Homo sapiens: one gene and its partner. The protein of the gene in region 1 purifies or fractionates together with the protein of each later gene. This does not show direct contact. Each region holds a gene or a part of one and is shown on either strand. Other genes may lie near its edges. The genes, in order: DUSP11 and MRPS21.

What was found.
Region 2: the proteins of DUSP11 (region 1) and MRPS21 purify together in Homo sapiens (affinity purification with mass spectrometry, with the first as the bait; one large-scale study listed by BioGRID). This does not show direct contact.

The regions. Positions count from the first base shown.
Region 1 is NC_000002.12:73,773,528-73,777,351, forward strand, and holds part of DUSP11 (RNA/RNP complex-1-interacting phosphatase), read right to left. Parts: intron 1,518-3,824; coding exon 1,386-1,517; intron 397-1,385; coding exon 273-396; intron 1-272. UniProt on the Homo sapiens protein: Possesses RNA 5'-triphosphatase and diphosphatase activities, but displays a poor protein-tyrosine phosphatase activity. In addition, has phosphatase activity with ATP, ADP and O-methylfluorescein phosphate (in vitro). Binds to RNA.
Region 2 is NC_000001.11:150,303,820-150,306,952, reverse strand, and holds part of MRPS21 (small ribosomal subunit protein bS21m), read right to left. Parts: intron 1-3,133.

The DNA of each region.
Region 1 (3,824 bases):
TTTAATTTTATATATTTCTCATTCAAATTAAAAAAGAAAGATGAGCCAGTTCAGTTCATATTTTGCACTAAAACTAATTTAACATTCCAAAGTTAAATTATTTGTGATCAACAAAAGGAAAAACATCTTACCCTATTAGCACCATCTGACATTTTCATCACCTTAGCATCATTAAATACAACAGGTCTGAGGTTGGAACTATAAAAAAATACCAAAAATCCCCAACCCCATTCATAATGCACACCACAGTTCAGGTAAGAACAAAAACTCACCATTATCTTTATTTTCTTTCAAAAACCCATTAACAGCGTGTTTGAATTTAAAAATAGTCTCATCATCAGGCACTTGATGTCCAACTGTAAAAATTTTTAAGTAAGGAACAGTTTCTGGCAAATCCTATAAAGCAAAACCATAAAAGATGTGTATTATTTCACTTGTAGAGAAATAATTAAAGAGTAATTAGGGGACCCAGAATATAAGCCAAGAGATTATAACAAACTTAATATGCCAATATCAGTATACACAATTCTGATAAAAGAGCCATTTTTTCCAACACTGCTTCAACCAGGAAGTATCACTTGATTTTCAATAAAACTACATAATAGATAGTCACTAGGTATACAAAACTGAAAGCAAATTCCATGTGAATGAATGCATATTTAACTATAAATTATATAAACAGTTCCATTTAATATTTTATAATTCAAGGGCCAGTGCCTTCATAAAGCAGCTATGATTTAAGTAGAAGAGTAGAGAATAGAGTCAGAAGAACTTGGATTTGAATTGTGAGATAGAGGGAATTCCAGGCACTATTGAGAACCGATATTCTTGGGGTGGGAGAAAAGTAGATACAGATAAAAGACAGAAGAGGCTAAGTCAAAATCATTTTAACCATCCACAAGTGTATAGTTCAGTGGCATTACATTCACAGTATTGTGTAACCATCACCACTGTCTATACCCAAAACTTTTTCATCATCCCCGACAAAAAGACTCTGACCACTAAACCATAATTCCCTTTTCTCCCCACCTCATAGATCCTTTAGTCTGCTTTCTGTCTCTGTGAATTTGTCTATTCTAGGTACTTCATACAAGTGGAATCATATATTTGTCCTTCTGTGTCTGGTTTATTTCACTAAGCATGTTTTTAAGGTTCATCCATATTGTAGCACGTATTAAATCTATTCTTTTTTATGGCTGAATAATATTCCATTTAAGACAGCAATTAAAAACATGTAATTAGAGAAATCACTTGGTTCTCTTTTAAACTTACTACCCATCAAAGAAGGCCAAGCTTCACATTAGCACAAGATGATTACTGAATTACTATAAATTATTTTAGGATCAGAAGGAAGAAAGTTCTTTTCATTGAAGGGTTCCACTTACCTCTGGTTTATAATAGCGTTGAGTATATGTTAAATCAATAATCAGTCCAAGTTCTTCATTTTGTTCTCGGATTTTGTTAAAAAGATCCAAAGGGGAAAAGCATTCTTCTGGAGCAAGTTTCTTTTCAAAACTCTGTCACAGAGAATGAAATAAGAGCAAATATGTGCTTAAAATCCTGTACTACATTAGGCATTTATTCAAGTCCTGTGATGCTAACATACAACGAGATTCAAAGGAAAGTTTCCATTCTCCTGGAACATAGAAGGTATATTACAACAATCCTTTCTTCCAGAGTGGTCAGAAAGAAAAAAATAAGCCCACTTCTATATATGTATTTCTGTATTTGTTTCATGTTGGTCTCCTAATCAGACTGTAATCTCCCAGATTTTATTCACCACTGTATCTCCAGCTCCAGGTGGAGTGCTTATCATATTTAGTGCTTATAAATATTTCTTTTCTTTTTTTTTTTTTTTTTTTGAAACAGGGTGTTGCTCTGTCATCCGTCATCCAGGCTGGAGTGCAGTGACACAAACATGGCTCACTGCAGCCTCCACCTCCTGGGCTCAAGCAATACTCCCACCTCAACCTCACAAGTAGCTGGGACTACAGGCATGAACCACCACACCTGGCCTTTTTTTTTTTTTTTTAAAGAGATAGGGTCAGCTGGGCGCAGTGGTTCACACCTGTAATCCCAGCACTTTGGGAGGCCAAGGCGGGAGGATCACAAGGTCAGGAGATCGAGACCATCCTGGCTAACACTGTGAAACCCCGTCTCTACTAAAAATACAAAAAATTAGCCAGGGGTGGTGGCAGGCGCCTGTAGTCCCAGCTACCGGGAGGCTGAGGCAGGAGAATGGCGTGAACCCGGGAGGCAGAGCTTGCAGTGAGCCGAGATCACACCACTGCACTCCAGCCTGGGTGACAGAGTGACTCCATCTCAAAAAAAAAATTTAAAAAAAAAAAAAAAAAAAAAAAAGAGATAGGGTCTTGCCGTCTTGCCATGTAGCCCAGGCTGATCTCAAACTCCTGAGCTCAAGCAACCCTCCTGTCTCGGCCTCACAAATAAATATTTCTCACATGTCTACATATATGAAGGATGGCTTTCATTGCTGAATATTCTTTTATGTATGTGGCTTATTTTTGAACTTTATGCTCTGTTCCTTCAATCTGTCTGGCTACTCAGGTGCCAGCAATGTACTTTTTAAAAAATAGACTAGTTTGGCTGGGTGCGGTGGCTCAAGCCTGTAATCCCAGCACTTTGGGAGGCCGAGGCAGGAGGATCACGAGGTCAGGAGATCGAGACCATCCTGGCTAACACGGTGAAACCCCATCTCTACTAAAAACACAAAAAAATTAGCCAGGCGTGGTGGCAGGCGCCGGTAGTTCCAGCTACTCAGGAGGCAGAGGCAGGAGAATGGCGTGAACCCAGGAGGCAGAGCTTGCAGTGAACCAAGATCACACCACTGCACTCCAGCCTGGGCGACAAGCGAGACACCATCTCAAAAAAAAAAAAAAAAAAATAGACTAGTTTTCAGAGCAGTTTTAGGTTCACAGCAAAACTGAGCCAAAAGGACAGATAGTTCCCACATGTACTTTGCCTTCCCCAACCCACCCAGACTCCCCCACTATCCACATTCCATACCAGTGTGGTCCATTTGTTACAAATGAAGAACCAACTCTGACACATCGTTATCACCAAAGTCTAGAGGTTAGGTATGCGTGATTCATTCTATGTTATGCATTGTATGTACATATTATGTTATATATATTTTGCCACAAAAAAAATGAGAGAAAGAACTAAGTTCAAGTTTTGATTCTTCCTTTTCTGAGCCTGTTTGATTATCTACAAAATTATTTATTAGATGTAACCATCTATTCTCTGAGCTTAGTGCAGAATAAGCACTCAGTAAGAGATATTAGTACTACTGCTACTTCATCAGCACAGGATTGTTGTGAAATGTGTTAATATACGTGAAGCCCTTTTATAGGTTTTGATCAATATATAACATGTATCCACCCTTAGAGTATCACACAGAATAGTTTCACTTCCCTAAAAATTCCCTGTGTCTCCAACACCTTCTTTTTGGAGACAGGGTCTTGCTCTGTTGCCCAGGCTGGAGTACAGTGGCATGATCATGGCTCACTGCAGCCTTGACCTCCTGGGTTCAATCGATCCTCCCACTTCAGCCTCCTGAGCAGCTGAGACTACAAGCACACGCCACCGCGCCTGGTTAATTTTTGTATTTTTTGTAGAGACACGGTTTCAGTGTTGCCCAGGCTGGTCTAAAACTCCTGGACTCAAGCGATACACCCACCTTGCCTCCCAAAGTACTGGATTACAAACATGATCCAACAGGCCTGGCCTGAAATGACTCATTTTTAAGCCCAGACATGCAGAGAAGCTGACACAGCAGTTGAAAAAGGAAATCTGATCTATAA
Region 2 (3,133 bases), on another chromosome or scaffold:
AGGGATATGATACAGTACCTGAAGAACATGTCTCCCTACAGCAATGATTCTCAACTAATGGGGCATTTCAGAGACCTCAACTGGGGAGAGCCATTTTCAGTAAGAACAGAATCACTAGGGGTGATTCTTAAGGTGATTCTCTTACTTAAAGTTCCATCCTGTCAGGCTGGTGGCTCACACCTGTAATTCCAGCACTGTGGGAGGCCGAGGTGGGCGGATCACCTGAGGTCAGGAGTTTGAGACCAGCCTGACCAACATGGAGAAACCCTGTCTCTACTAAAAATACAAAATTAGCCGGGCATGGTGGTGTATGCCTGTAATCCCAGCTACTCGGAAGGCTGAGGCAGGAGAATTGCTTGAACCCTGGGGGCGGAGATTGCAGTAAGCCAAGGTTGCGCCACTGCACTCCAGCCTGGGCAACAAGAGTGAAACTCCATCTCAAAAAGATCACTTGAGGTCAGGAGTTCAAGACCAGGCTGGCCAACATGGTGAAACCCCACCTCTACTAAAAATACAAAAATTAGCCAGGCGTAGTGGTGGGCACCTGTACTCAGTAGGCTGAGGCAGGAGAATCCCTTGAACTCGGGGTGGAGGCTGTAGTGAGCCGAGATGGTGCCACTGCACTCCAGCCTGGGCAACAGACTCTTGTCTCAAGGAAAAACAAAACAAAAACAAACTCACAGGAGGCATTAAACCTGAACTTGAGAACAAGAAAGTGGTTGTGAAGGGATCCTAAAGAACAACTCATCTGAAATGTGAATAAGTAGGTTGCCCTATTTCCACTCTCTTTTCCTACACCAATTATTGCCCTAAAACATAAATCAGATCATGTCACTCTGGTGCTAAAAAATCTTTCCTAATATACAGAGTGGCCTAAGCCACTAAAGTTCCCAGAATCATCTGCACATCAGAACTGCCCAGGGATCTTTTAAACATTCCGAACCCTGGGCCACACCCAGTCCAATTAAATCACAAAGGAGAGGGAAAGGGACATGAGCAGGTTTTTCAGTTTCCAAGGTGATTCCAATGTACAGACAGATTTTGGAACTACTAGTCTAAGCTCAAAGCCCAAACAATTGCCCCCTATATATATATCTTTTAATAACCTGCCCTACTGATCACTTGAGGTCAGGAGTTCGAGACAAGCCTGGCCAACATGGTGAAACCCCATCTCTACTAAAAATACAAAAATTAGCTGGGCATGGTGGTGCCCACCTGTAATCCCAGCTACTCGGGAAGCGGAGGCAGGAGAATAGCTTGAACCTGGGAGGTGGAGGTTGCAATGAGCCGAGATCAAGGCACTGCACTCCAGCTGGGCAAAAGATGGAGACTCCATCTCAAAAAACAAAAACAAAACACGTGCCCTATAATGCCTATGCTCTAGTCACACTTAAGTATATGCAGTTCTCCAAGCATCCTACATACTTGTTTTTTTCTTTGCTCATGATGTTCCCTTTACTTGGAATATCATTCTTTTCTTTTTCTTCCTGATGAAATCCTACTTGTTCCTCAAAGGCCCAAATCAATTGTTATCACATCTGTAAACTAGTTCAGGTGAAATCAAACTTTGGCATGCAGTAGTCATCTGGAAAGCTTGTTAAAACAGGGATTGCTGGCTGGCCATGGTGGCTCACACCTGTAATCCCAGGACTTTGGGAGGCCGAGCTGGGAGGATCACTTGAGCCCAGGAGTTTGACACTAGCCTGAGCAACATAGTGAGAACCCCATCTCCACAAAAAATAAAAATTAACCAGACATGGTGGCACACACACCTGCACTCCCAGCTACTTGGGAGGCTGACATGGGAGAATGGGAGAAATGCTTTATCCCAGGAGGTTGAGACTGCAGTGAGCCATGATTGTGGCACTGCACTCCAGCCTGGGCAAGCAAGACCCTATTTCTTTCTTTCTTTTGAGACGGAGTTGCGCACTTGTTGCCCAGGCTGGAGTGCAATGGCGCAATCTTGGCTCACTGCAACCTCCGCCTTCTGGGTTCAAGCGATTCTCCTGCCTCAGCTTCCCAAGTAGCCGGAATTACAAGCACCAGCTAATTTTTGTTATTTTTAGTAGACATAAGGTTTCGCCATGTTGGCAGGCTGGTCTCGAACTCCTGACCTCAGGTGATCCACCCGCCTCAGCCTCCCAAAGTGCTGGGATTACAGGCATGAGCCACCGCAACCGGCCTTTTTTTTTTTTTTGAGACAGAGTCTCGCTCTGTTGCCCAGGCAGGAGTTGCAGTGGCACGATCTCGGCTCACTGCAACCTCCGCCTCCCAGGTTCAAGAGATTCTCTTGCCTCAGGCTCCCGAGTAGCTGGGACTACAGACACGCACCACCACGCCCAGCTAATTTTTGTATTTTTAGTAGAGACGGAGTTTCACCATATTGGTCAGGCTGGTCTTGAACTTCTGACCTCATGATCTGCCTGCCTTGGCCTCCCAAAGTGCTGGGATTACAGGCATGAGCCACTGCGCTTGGCTGTGAAACCCTATTTCAAAGAACACCACAGATTGCTGTGCCACAGTTTCTGATTCTGTAGGCCTAGAGTAGGGGCCAAGAATTTGCATTTCTAACAATTCCCAGCTGATATTGCTGCTGATGGTCCAGGGACAACCAACACCATGGCACCATTTTTTTTTTTTTGTAGGCAGGGCCTCGCTCTGTTGCCCAGGCTGGAGTGCAGTGTCACCATCTTGGCTCACTGCAGCCTCAACCTCTCAGGTTCAAGCAATTCTCCCGCCTCAGCCTCCTGAGTAGCTGGGATTACAGGGGCGTACCACCACACCTGGATAATTTTTGCATTTTTAGTAGAGACAGGGTTTCACCATGTTGGCCAGGCTGGTCTCAAACTCCTGACCTCAGGTGATCCACCCACCTCGGCCTCCCAAAGTGCTGGGATTGCAGGCGTGAGCCACCACGCCCGGCTGATGTCTCTTTTATAGCACTGATCAAACAGTATTACATTGAACCCCTCATTGGGTTGTGTCTTTTCTAAGGTTAGAGATCAAATCTGTATTCACTTTTGCACCTAACAAAATACTTGGCAAAGAACAACTAGGAAATGTATGCCAAAAATGAGTCCTCTAGATGACTAATAAATGTCCATAGCACAAGGGATTAAGTGACCTTACAATA